3 linked regions of the Homo sapiens genome follow. The protein of the gene in region 1 interacts with the protein of each later gene in a pairwise test. Each region holds a gene or a part of one and is shown on either strand. Other genes may lie near its edges. The genes, in order: HSD17B11, LNPEP and GOLT1A.

Region 1 (3,655 bases):
AGGGCAAAGTTTTTCCCCACCCTAATAAGCCTGATAGTACTGCAGGAGACCAGGGCGTATCTCAGTCCTTACCTCAACCACATAGGACGGACATTCCCAGAGCAGCCATTTATAGACCTCCCCGTAGGAATGCATTCCTTTCCCAAGGTATTAATGTTAATATTCCTTGCTAGGAAAAGAATTTAGCAATATCTCTCCTACTTGCACATCCGTTTATAGGCTGTCTGCAAGAAGAAAAATATGGCTCTTTTTTGCCCGACCCCACAGGCAGTCAGACCTTATGGTTGTCTTCCCTTGTTCCCTAAAAATCACTGTTATTCTGTTCTTTTTCAAGGTGCACTGATTTCATATTGTTCAAACACACATGTTTTACAATCAATTTGTACAGTTAACACAATTATCACAGTGGTCCTGAGGTGACGTACATCCTCAGCTTATGAAGATAACAGGATTAAGAGATTACAGGCATAAGAAATTATAAAAGTATTATTTGGGCACTGATAAATGTCCATATTAAAATGAAATCTTCACAATTTATGTTCTTTGCCGCGGCTCCAGCCGGTCCCTCCATTCGGGGTCCCTGACTTCCCACAGGAGAAAAAGAACTTGTTTCCCTTTATTATCATAACAGTTTCACTATGCAAGCTACTAATTCTCCCCACAGCTGTCCAGATTTGGCCTTTCCAACATTAGTTGCCATTTACAAATGTGTACACTGATTCACCATCCTCTCTGTGGATAAATGTATGAGTCCTCCTAGGGTCTGCCCATTAGTGCATTAGTTGACAATTATTAGGTTGATGCAAAAGTAATTGCAGTTTTTGTCATTAAACTAATGGCAAAAACAGCAATTACTTTTCCAACAACCTAATACTTGGCCTGCAGAATGCACAATACTAGATCTTCATCCAAAATATCTTTTGAGACATTCTCTTAAAAGTTAAAAAAAAAAAAAGGCAAAAATTGGCCAAAAGCAAACAAGCAAAGATAACAACAACAACAAAAAACCCCAATGGTATGATCCTAAACTTAAGTTGACTCAAAATTGGCGCCCCAAATTGGACTCATAACCCCTTTTCCTCAAATCTGCTGTCATCTCTGTCTGACATGTGGCAGCGTGATCTTGCCAGCTACCAAAACTAGAAAGCAAAGATGTCAGATGTGGCTCCTTCCCATCCTTCCTCATCTACTCACCAAGTCTTACTGATTTTACCTTCTAAACATATATTTTAAAGGATATTCTTTCCTCTACATTTTTTCTACTAATGCCACATTTCAAGTTTGTGTCATCTATTACCTGAATCACTGTAACTGCCTCTCAGTTTTTTTCTTCCTCCAGTGTTGACCCCTAAAATCCACCCTCCATACATCAGCCAAAATAATCAATACGACACATAAACCTGACACTATAATTTAATCAGTGGCTCCTCATTCATTTTTTGATAAATCTTAATATGACATGTGGGACCTTAATCTGAACTTCTTCTGGCCTTGACCTTTATGATCCATCCAACAACACTAATCCTACTAGTGGTTTCCACAAGACCAATCTCCTATCTGTCATTGCCCACACCCTGCCTGATGTGTCCTTTCACCCTGGGGAAAGCAAGTGAAAGGGCATGGCAAACCACTGCTGGAATTGTATTGTGTGCCCCTCTGTGTTCCCGTAACTCCCTGTATAGAACTCTGCTGTGATACTCATCACAATGTATTAGGTTGAAACTGCCAATATTCAATCTTTTATTATCAAAACAATAACAGTATTACGTGGTCCTACTTAACTATGATACTTATGTTTCTTTCTACTACACAGAGAACTTCTTGGGGTCGGGACTCTACCTCATTCATATTTGTGTCAAGGTTTTTCTAAGCTCAGTGAATATGACCTTCACATTAAAATGCTGAAAGAACAAATGGTTTAATGAACTGTGGTTAACTCATTATTTCTTTTGCAGACAGTAAACTGACATCCATGAATAGTTTTTAATGACATGGAAAAAAGTTTAATGTTACATTTTTTAAAGCCTGATATGGAATACACAGAGATACCAACATTCACAAAGTATTCAAAGTTCATAAATATAAAAACTAGTATTTTAAGATTTTTATCTTCTTTTAAGAAGCTTGCTTTAAATTCAGCTCCAAATAAAAGAAGCTAGTCAAAATACTAAAAGCAAAATGTGCCTATATACCTGCCAAAAATGTGTTGTTAACAATCTTGCCCAATTCAAATGGAAAGAATCTCACTACTTTTTAAAAATTATTTTTAATTATTTTCAGCTGTCGATATAATATGTTCATATCAATTATTACCTTGCCCTCTTTTTTGCTTTTTCTAGCATGGACTGGAGGAAACAGCTGCCAAATGCAAGGGACTGGGTGCCAAGGTTCATACCTTTGTGGTAGACTGCAGCAACCGAGAAGATATTTACAGCTCTGCAAAGAAGGTGAAATGTTGTGTTTAGTTAGAATCATATCATGTTAGAGCTAGGAGGTGTTTTGGAGATGACCCAGTCTGTACATGATATAGATGAAGTACCTGAGAAATGTTGTTATTTGACCAAGGTTATAGAACTAGCTCATAGCAAACCCAAAACTAGAACCGAGAACTGAACCTCTCAAATATTAGTATGTTCTGGAATTTTCCAGGGAGTTGTTAAAAATGTATATATATACTCTTGGGCTCCACTTCCAGAGATTTTCTTTCAGTAGGTTGAAGGCAGGGCCTCAAATACATCCACCCTGCCTCCCATGCGCCTTCATCTCACCCATGATGCTCATATAGGTAACTATGCCTGGATGACACTTGCAGAATTGCTGACAGGGTCTTCTGAAGCCCATTCATAGAATTGGGTTAGAAAGTTACAATAAAGCTATTCTTTATCAGGTTTTTATTGTAGATAGATCTATTTCTTTTCTTTTCTCTTTTTTTTTTTTTTTTGAGATGGGGGGTCTCACTCTGTTACCCAGGTTGGAGTGCAGTGGCATGATCTCGATTCATTGCAACCTCCACCTCCCAGAATCAAGCAATCCTCCCACCTCAGCCTCCCAAGTAGCTGGGACCACAGGTGTGTGCCACCACGCCAGCTAATTTTTTGTATTTTTGGTAGAAAACGGGGTCTCACCATGTTGCCCAGGCTGATCTCGAACTCCTGAGCTCAGGGGATCCACCCACCTCAGCCTCCCAAAGTCCTGGGATTATAGGCATGAGCCACGCTCCCAGCAGATCTATTTCTATAAAGCATTATTTGCCTCTTCTAGATACAATTGAGATGTGCTGTATATAATGGGGTTTCACTCTGAACGCATTCTCGCTTGTACCTGTTAACTAAATACCTTAATGGCAGCAAGGTCATCAGAATTACCTGGGCAGATTCCTTAAAATACACATTCCTGGACCTTACCCCTGGATATTCTAATTCAGTGCAGTATAAAAAGTGTGATTCAGCAAGACTTGAGAACCTCTTTGTTTATGGAATTTTTGGTTTGAGTTCTTTTTTTTTTTTTTTTTTTTTGAAATGGAGTCTCACTCTGTCGCCCAGGCTGGAGTGCAGTGGCGTGATCTCAGCTCACTGCAAGCTCCACCTCCCGGGTTCACAAGCGATTCTCCTGCCTCAGCCTCCCTAGTAGCTGTGATTACAGGCACGCACCATCA
Region 2 (3,655 bases), on another chromosome or scaffold:
AGAAAAGTAGCAAAAACATTTATATACATGTTTAAAGTATATACTCTTACCTTGAAACCTCTCCTAGCAAAAAATTTTCTCTCTCCTAGCAAAAAATCTTCAATAAACCCAAACTACTCTTAAGTATTGCCCACATGGGCAATAAGGGAAAGGGAAAAGAGGAGACTGTTATACATCCGGAACTCCATGGTTCATTAGGTACCTTTCAGTCTGGGCACCCGATGAATTAATACAATGTAGTAGTAAAAACATGTATATACATTAAGTGCATTTTCCTACCTTCCCCGTCCCTCCCCCTCACCTCAAATACGCCACTTGACAACTACTCTGTTAGCTACTGCCCAGCAGTCAATAAGGGATGAGGAGAATGGGAGACTGTTATACATCGAGATCTCCACATTTCATTGGTACTTTCACATCCATGAGAAGGACACAGTGTGAACCAAATTAGTAATACAATGTAGTAGCAAGTTTATTTATATACATTAAGTACATACTCCACTCTCCCCCACACCCCAAAACAAAACAAACTACTCTATTAGCTATTGCCTAAATAGGCAGTAAGGAAAAGGGAAAAGAGATTTGTCATACTCTGAACCTCAATTTTCATTAAGTATATATGCATCCATACAAGGAAACAAGTATAAAATGAAGTATAAAAAGGTGGCACAATATTTATACACACTTGAAAGAATAATATACAACCCCAGCCCCAAGACTAGATCAAAACAACAGCAACTAGGACTACTCTGTCAGTTATTGTCCATGCGAACAATAAGGAGAAACGCAAAGGGGACATCTGTCATGCTTTTGGACCACCGCGTTTTATCTACACGTCCACAAAATGGATGAATGAAATACAAAATGAAATAACACAAAATAGCAAAAACATCTGTACACACTTTTAAAAGAATATAGCTTGCTCTCCTCTCAACATCACCACCTTCTTCCAAAGAAGGAAACCAAATAACTAGTCTGTAGCTACTGCCCATACAGGTAAAATGGGAAGGGTAGATGAAATTTTCATAGGATGATATATCACTCTTCATCAGGAAAAAAATATACAAAATGAAATAATATAAAAACTATCAAAAACATGTATGTACATTTTTAAAGTATATACTCCCAAAAAAACCACTGAAAAAAATCGATCAACTTTTCCATTAGCTGTCACCCACACAGGCAATAAGGTTAAGGGAGGAGATTTACCATACTTTTGAACCGCTACTTTTCAGGTAGTACTTAACTGGCAAAGCAGGGAATGGAGCACAAAATAAAAGAATGCAAAAACAAGCAAATATATATATAACTTAGTTTTTAAAAATACAAATGGGATGAAGGGGGAAGGAAGCTCTTTAAAAAGAGATTTAATTCCAATAAATACAAAAGTAACAAAGGCATAGGTGAGAAGAAAAGCTATGTCATATCCATGGCCTCAGTTTTTAGAGAGGCCTAAGTAACAAAATCCACATCTAGTTTTGCAGCCCAGGAAATGCTGTCCTTGGAGGTGGCTCATCTCAGATGTATTTGCCTTCCCTGAAGCCCCATGAAACATGGGGATTATGTGAATGTTTAGCAATCTGATGGCAGATTATGGTTCCAGGTACTTTGGTTTAAATAGACTCTTTTTAAAATCCATCTCAACAAACTGTCAGTAATCCAACAAAATCAACACTTAACTCTTTTTTTTTTGTTTTTTGTTTTTTGAGACAGTCTCGCTTTGTCACCCAGGCTGGAGTGCAGTGGCACAACCTTGGCTCACTGCAACCTCCGCCTCCTGGGTTCAAGTGATTCTCGTGCCTCCCAGGTAGCTGGGATTACAGGTGTGCACCACCATGCCCAGCTAATTTTTATATTTTTAGTAGAGATGGGGTTTTGCCATGTCGGCCAAACTGGTTTAGAACTCCTGGCCTCAAATGGTCTGCCCACCTTGGCATCCCAAAATGCTGGGATTACAGGCATAAGCCACCGCGCCCAGCCAACACTTAACTGATTTCTTATTTCCTAATAGAAAGGATTCTGTTTGGTATCCTATAATACTGATGCAGCTTGATTTGCTCTGTACACCCAGGAGTCTTCTGACAACTCTTGTGTTCCTGTGGTGGCTAATGTCCCACAAAATGGAAACACATATGGCAAGGAAAATTAAAGTAGAACCTGTGATAGTAAGAAAGTTCATGAATGCTGAAACAATGACAACAAAATTTCATTTAAAGAGACTTAAATAAAACAAGATGGAGGAAGGCCCAAGCTTATGGTGAAGCTGATACTACTTGCAGTTTAATATATCTAACCATTTTATATTAACAGAACAAACTGGACTTATCTAATTCCTACATTCATAACTTTTTTAGATCTCCAAAGCATAAACATTTCTTCCACAACTCAAGATTTCCAATTCTTTTTTAATAATCTAGTATGATGACCCTTTTATATTCAAGTAGATCTCTCTGCAATGAGAACACTTGTTCAACAAGTACTTGTGTCATGAATCTGTGTGCTTAAATAAAAGAAGCATACTGTGACTTCTGTGCTTCAGTCTGAGTTCTCAGAAATACACTGGCTAAGACAATGTTTTGAGAAGATAAAACTTTGAAAGCTACCATTATACCTATTACACTACAAGTTCTACCTCTCATTTAACCTTACATTCCTGACGTAGTTTTTAGAAGTCCTATATAGATGGGTTAGTTCAACATTAAAATTATGGAATTCTGTGGGAAAAACTGAGGCAAGGCCTACTAAAACTACAAATAATTAAGGTAAGGGCAACAACATCAAAAAAACTACAACTATTATGGATCTGGTATTATGGGAATGAACAGCCTTTGAGTAATAAAGATAGCAATGGATCATGAGTTATCTCTTTTTCAGGCCAAGTTTTGATAAAGTTTTACTCATAACAATACCCCCCACACTACACACACACACACACACACACACACACACACACACACACACACACACAGAGAGAGAGAGAGAGGGAGAGAAATGATATAATTCAAGACAAGATTTGCCATATGCAGAGTTAACTAACATACATTATAGGAGCGATGTCAAGAAGCACAGGTAAAACTGAAGAATCTTAAGTGATTTTGAGAAGTTACAAAATTTAAATTTTGTATCAAAGTGGAATTTAGTACCACATGGTAAAAAACCAGCAACGACAACAAAACTCTCAAAAGTTTAGTATTTTTCCCTCACTCTAAAAATATAAAAACACATTAACTTTCACTATCAACTAAATTATCATTCATTTAACCAAAGCACAAGAATAAAGACTTACAATCACTTCAGTTGAATAAGACATATTTAGATGATTCTGTGATTCTCAGGATATAATATTTTCTACTCTAAAACAGATAAATTTTAGAAAAGACTAAATTGGGGAAAACACACTAGGATTAAAGAAGACTATTTTTTTAGCTTACCAGCCTTTTAAATTTTATTATATAAAAATATTTTCATAAAATAAAATATAATTTTATTCACAATTCCATACATTCTAACTTGATACCTGCCGAATAAAAAAAGGGTGACCTTTCCCACTGTCTGACTCTGTGGAGTGTTTTAAGTGCTCACAAATGGGTAAATACCCTTTTTATGTACATAGAAACTGTTTTCAAACAAAATATAAAGTTCTCAAGAATTATTA
Region 3 (3,318 bases), on another chromosome or scaffold:
CAAAGTCTCTGAGGCCTAGGCCATTCAGGCTAATCAGGGGGTTTCAGGGCTGCCTTCAGCAAACGGGGGCTCCTGTGAGAACCTGGGGATTCCTGAGCCCCACACCTTTCCATGATTGCAGAAGCCATCATTCTTCCAGGGTCCATTGTCCCAATCCCACCCCTATTCTCTCCACACCACCGTGTAGACATATGAAGTCTTCCTTCCCACCCCCACTTTCTCTGAGACTCCTTCCTTCCTTTTCCTTCAGTGCCCTCCAGTCTTCTCTTAGACCCTACCCATCCCTCAAGGCTTCTCTCAAGTCCTGCTTCCTCTATGACACTACCCTGGGCTCCCCTCTAAGTGCCTACAGGCCTGACAGTGGCCACACATCATGGCTGAGTTCCACCCTGCCTTTTCCCAGGCCCAGGGCTGACACAGGCCTGGCCAGGGGATGACACAGGGGTCAGGAGCCAGAGCTCCCTGGGTTAAGGGCGACCTTTTTCACATACTAGTTTGAGACTTTGGGCCGGGGGCAACTTCTCTGAGTGTTGGTTTCCTTATCTATGAAGTAGAGGATAATCCTATAGTGGGTTGTTGTGATAAAATAAGATGATGATCATGAGTGTGCCTGGAACATGTTAGCTCACTGCCCTTCCTCTCCGGCTGGATCACTGAGATTTGAGGGCAGGCCTCGTGTCTCTTCCCTGCTCACAGGCACAGTGCTGGGGGCACAGTGCTGGGAACACAGTCGGCACTCTATCAGTATTTGTTGATGGATGGGCTAATCCCTCCAAAGTACCCTTCAGCCTACTTTAGGGGGCCTTTCCAAGGTGTCCATGGTTCTCATCTCTTGCAGGATAAAGTCCCAGCTTCTGCACTCCCTGCTGGGGTGATCTCAGCCACTCAGACACTTTGGTGGGTCTGTCCAGGGTTATAGGGATTTGCACTCACTTAAAGAGGCTGAAGAATCCGTAGGTTTCCAGGAACATGCCGAGGAGGGGCCAGCGTAGGAGCACGATAACCACACCCCCCAGGAGGAAGCTGGTTCCCTTGAGTTTGTGCCGTTGGAAGAAGAACCAAAAGGTCTTCCTCAGGCCAATGATGAGGGACAGGCCCGTCAGGAACAGCAGCTGTAGGGGAGGGAGGGGAGCATGAAGCAAACCCACCAGCCCCCTGAGGAGTGAGGGACTTAGGCCTGGAGCCAGGCGGTGGGCTGGGACAGGATGTGCTAACTGTTCAAGACCATCTGAGCGAGGGCCATCCAGCAGTGTGGCAGAATCCCAGAGCCTTGATAAGTCTTGCTGGCTGGGAACAGGACTGCGCAGAGGCAGGGGGATGGATGAGAAACCTTTGACGGTTTCTAGTTGCCTACCCAATTCCCTGGAGCCCAAGCATTTTTCATATGGGACTTGGTTTCTCACCATACCATCTGGGGAAGATGGAATCGGGAGGGATTTTTATTCCAAAGAAGTGAAGATTGAGGCCTAAGTAGGTTAGGCAGCCATACTGAAAGTCACACAGAACCTTCAGAGGCTCCACTGCCTACAGAATAACCCTCCAGTCCCTCCCCTGGATGCCCTATCACCGTCTTCAGCTTGGCTCCTAATGAATCCCTTAAGAGTGCCCAGGCTCTCATCAAATTGAACTCTCTGGTTTTCTTCCAGCATATCCCATGCTTCCCTGCTCCTTCCCCACACCTTTTCTCCTGCTGTTCCAATCCCCCTGGAAGTGCTTTATTCACCTCCACACCCATTTCCTTTCCAAATTCCTCTCCACCATTCTCCAATTCAGTGTGCCCTCTTTCCACTAAGCCCCTTGTTTCATACTAAATGTGTTTACCATGGCCCCTGCCTTCCTCCCAGCCATGTATGTCATGTTATATCTCTAGCCCTAGAGTGGGATTCAGATGGCAGGGACAGTGTCTGAGTCCTCTTAGAACCCCCAGGGTCTCGCCCAGAGCTCGGTGTGAGAATCCAGGTCCTCAGATTCTTGGTGCCAGCGGGCTCTGCGTCCATTTCCTGTGCCCTCCTCTGCCCAGGCTTGATGATGTCTGACCCCTGGATAGGCATGGTCTGAATAAACTTGGGATTTACTTAAGGGATTTATTTAAAGACTTAAATAAACTGTAAGTCTTTATTGCCAGGACTATCCTGGCAATAGAGACTTCAGAAAGGTTGGGGCAGGGGAGTGGGGACACAGGGCTGGGAGACTCACGTTTCCAAAGGCCAGGAGCACGGAATCAAAGTACAGGAGTGTTCCAAAGAGGATGAAGAAGATGCCGAAACCGGTGATCCCCACACCAATCTCTGCAATGGGCAAGGAGGTGGTGGAGGAAAGGGCTTTGGGGAGCAGGTGGGGACCCTGAAACTTCCCCCATTGCCACAGGACAGGTGCCCTCTATGGGGGTGACTCCACTTCCATCCAGGAATCTCAGCTTTCATGCTCTCAGGGGATGGTGGGATGGGAAGGGGAAGGTAGGATGGCATGAAGCTTTGTCTGGCACCTGGGAACTGTGCTGTCACTTCTGTACACAGTGGCATGCTGTCCTCACTGCAGCCCTGTGTGGAAGCTGGTGCTGCCCTGACCACTTTATACTCTCAGCCTCCTCTTGTCCTCAAAAGCCACATTATCCACATCAGTATCAAGGCTGAACATAGCATCTGCTGCCTCTGCTCCTGCCTTGTGCAACTGAGAACCACTGGAGCCCAGCCCACACTGCGCAGAAGGGAGCCACTGAAAACTCAGGACCACCAGCTCCAAAGAGCCTCAGAACCACCCAGCTCTCCTGGTCCTTACTCAAGAGGCTGGCCCGCCTGAGCAACTCTCCACACTGCCTCCTTCCTCCTCAGAATTGCCCTGTCTCCACTCTCAGGTGGTGACATTTCCCACTGGATTGGGAAAACAGAAGTCATCAGTTAGGAATGCATTCCTCTTCTCAGCTGGGACCTATATCCAAGACCCAAGCCTGCACCTGCTCCCATTGTCCTCCCTCCCTCCTGCAGCAGGCACCTTGCGGGCCCCCCACACACTCTTCGGCCAACTCTCATTTCAGCCCAGTGGCTTTGGGCAGTTCTGCCGAGGTTGGACCCACACTGACAATGAGCCCCCATTCCCAAGGTTTGACAGTGAGCCCCCATTCCCAAGGTTTGACAGTAAGCCCCCATTCCCAAGGTTTGTAAGTGTCTCAGGGCATTCTTTGAAGCTGCAGGAGTTCACTCAGAGCCAGCAAGCGTAGCCTAGAAGTGCAGGACATGAAGGCCCCCTCGTTTGGTCAAGGGCTACATTTTTGACATTTTGATAAACATATTTCAGATCGCTCCCCTCAAGACGATTTGT

What was found.
Region 2: the proteins of HSD17B11 (region 1) and LNPEP interact in binary tests that used the Homo sapiens proteins (3 or more experiments, as listed by UniProt).
Region 3: the proteins of HSD17B11 (region 1) and GOLT1A interact in binary tests that used the Homo sapiens proteins (3 or more experiments, as listed by UniProt).

Annotation. Positions count from the first base shown.
Region 1 is NC_000004.12:87,381,047-87,384,701, reverse strand, and holds part of HSD17B11 (estradiol 17-beta-dehydrogenase 11 precursor), read left to right. Parts: intron 1-2,339; coding exon 2,340-2,447; intron 2,448-3,655. UniProt on the Homo sapiens protein: Can convert androstan-3-alpha,17-beta-diol (3-alpha-diol) to androsterone in vitro, suggesting that it may participate in androgen metabolism during steroidogenesis.
Region 2 is NC_000005.10:97,029,934-97,033,588, reverse strand, and holds part of LNPEP (leucyl-cystinyl aminopeptidase), read right to left. Parts: 3' UTR 1-3,655. UniProt on the Homo sapiens protein: Release of an N-terminal amino acid, cleaves before cysteine, leucine as well as other amino acids. Degrades peptide hormones such as oxytocin, vasopressin and angiotensin III, and plays a role in maintaining homeostasis during pregnancy.
Region 3 is NC_000001.11:204,200,700-204,204,017, forward strand, and holds part of GOLT1A (vesicle transport protein GOT1A), read right to left. Parts: intron 2,289-3,318; coding exon 2,197-2,288; intron 1,113-2,196; coding exon 934-1,112; intron 1-933. UniProt on the Homo sapiens protein: May be involved in fusion of ER-derived transport vesicles with the Golgi complex.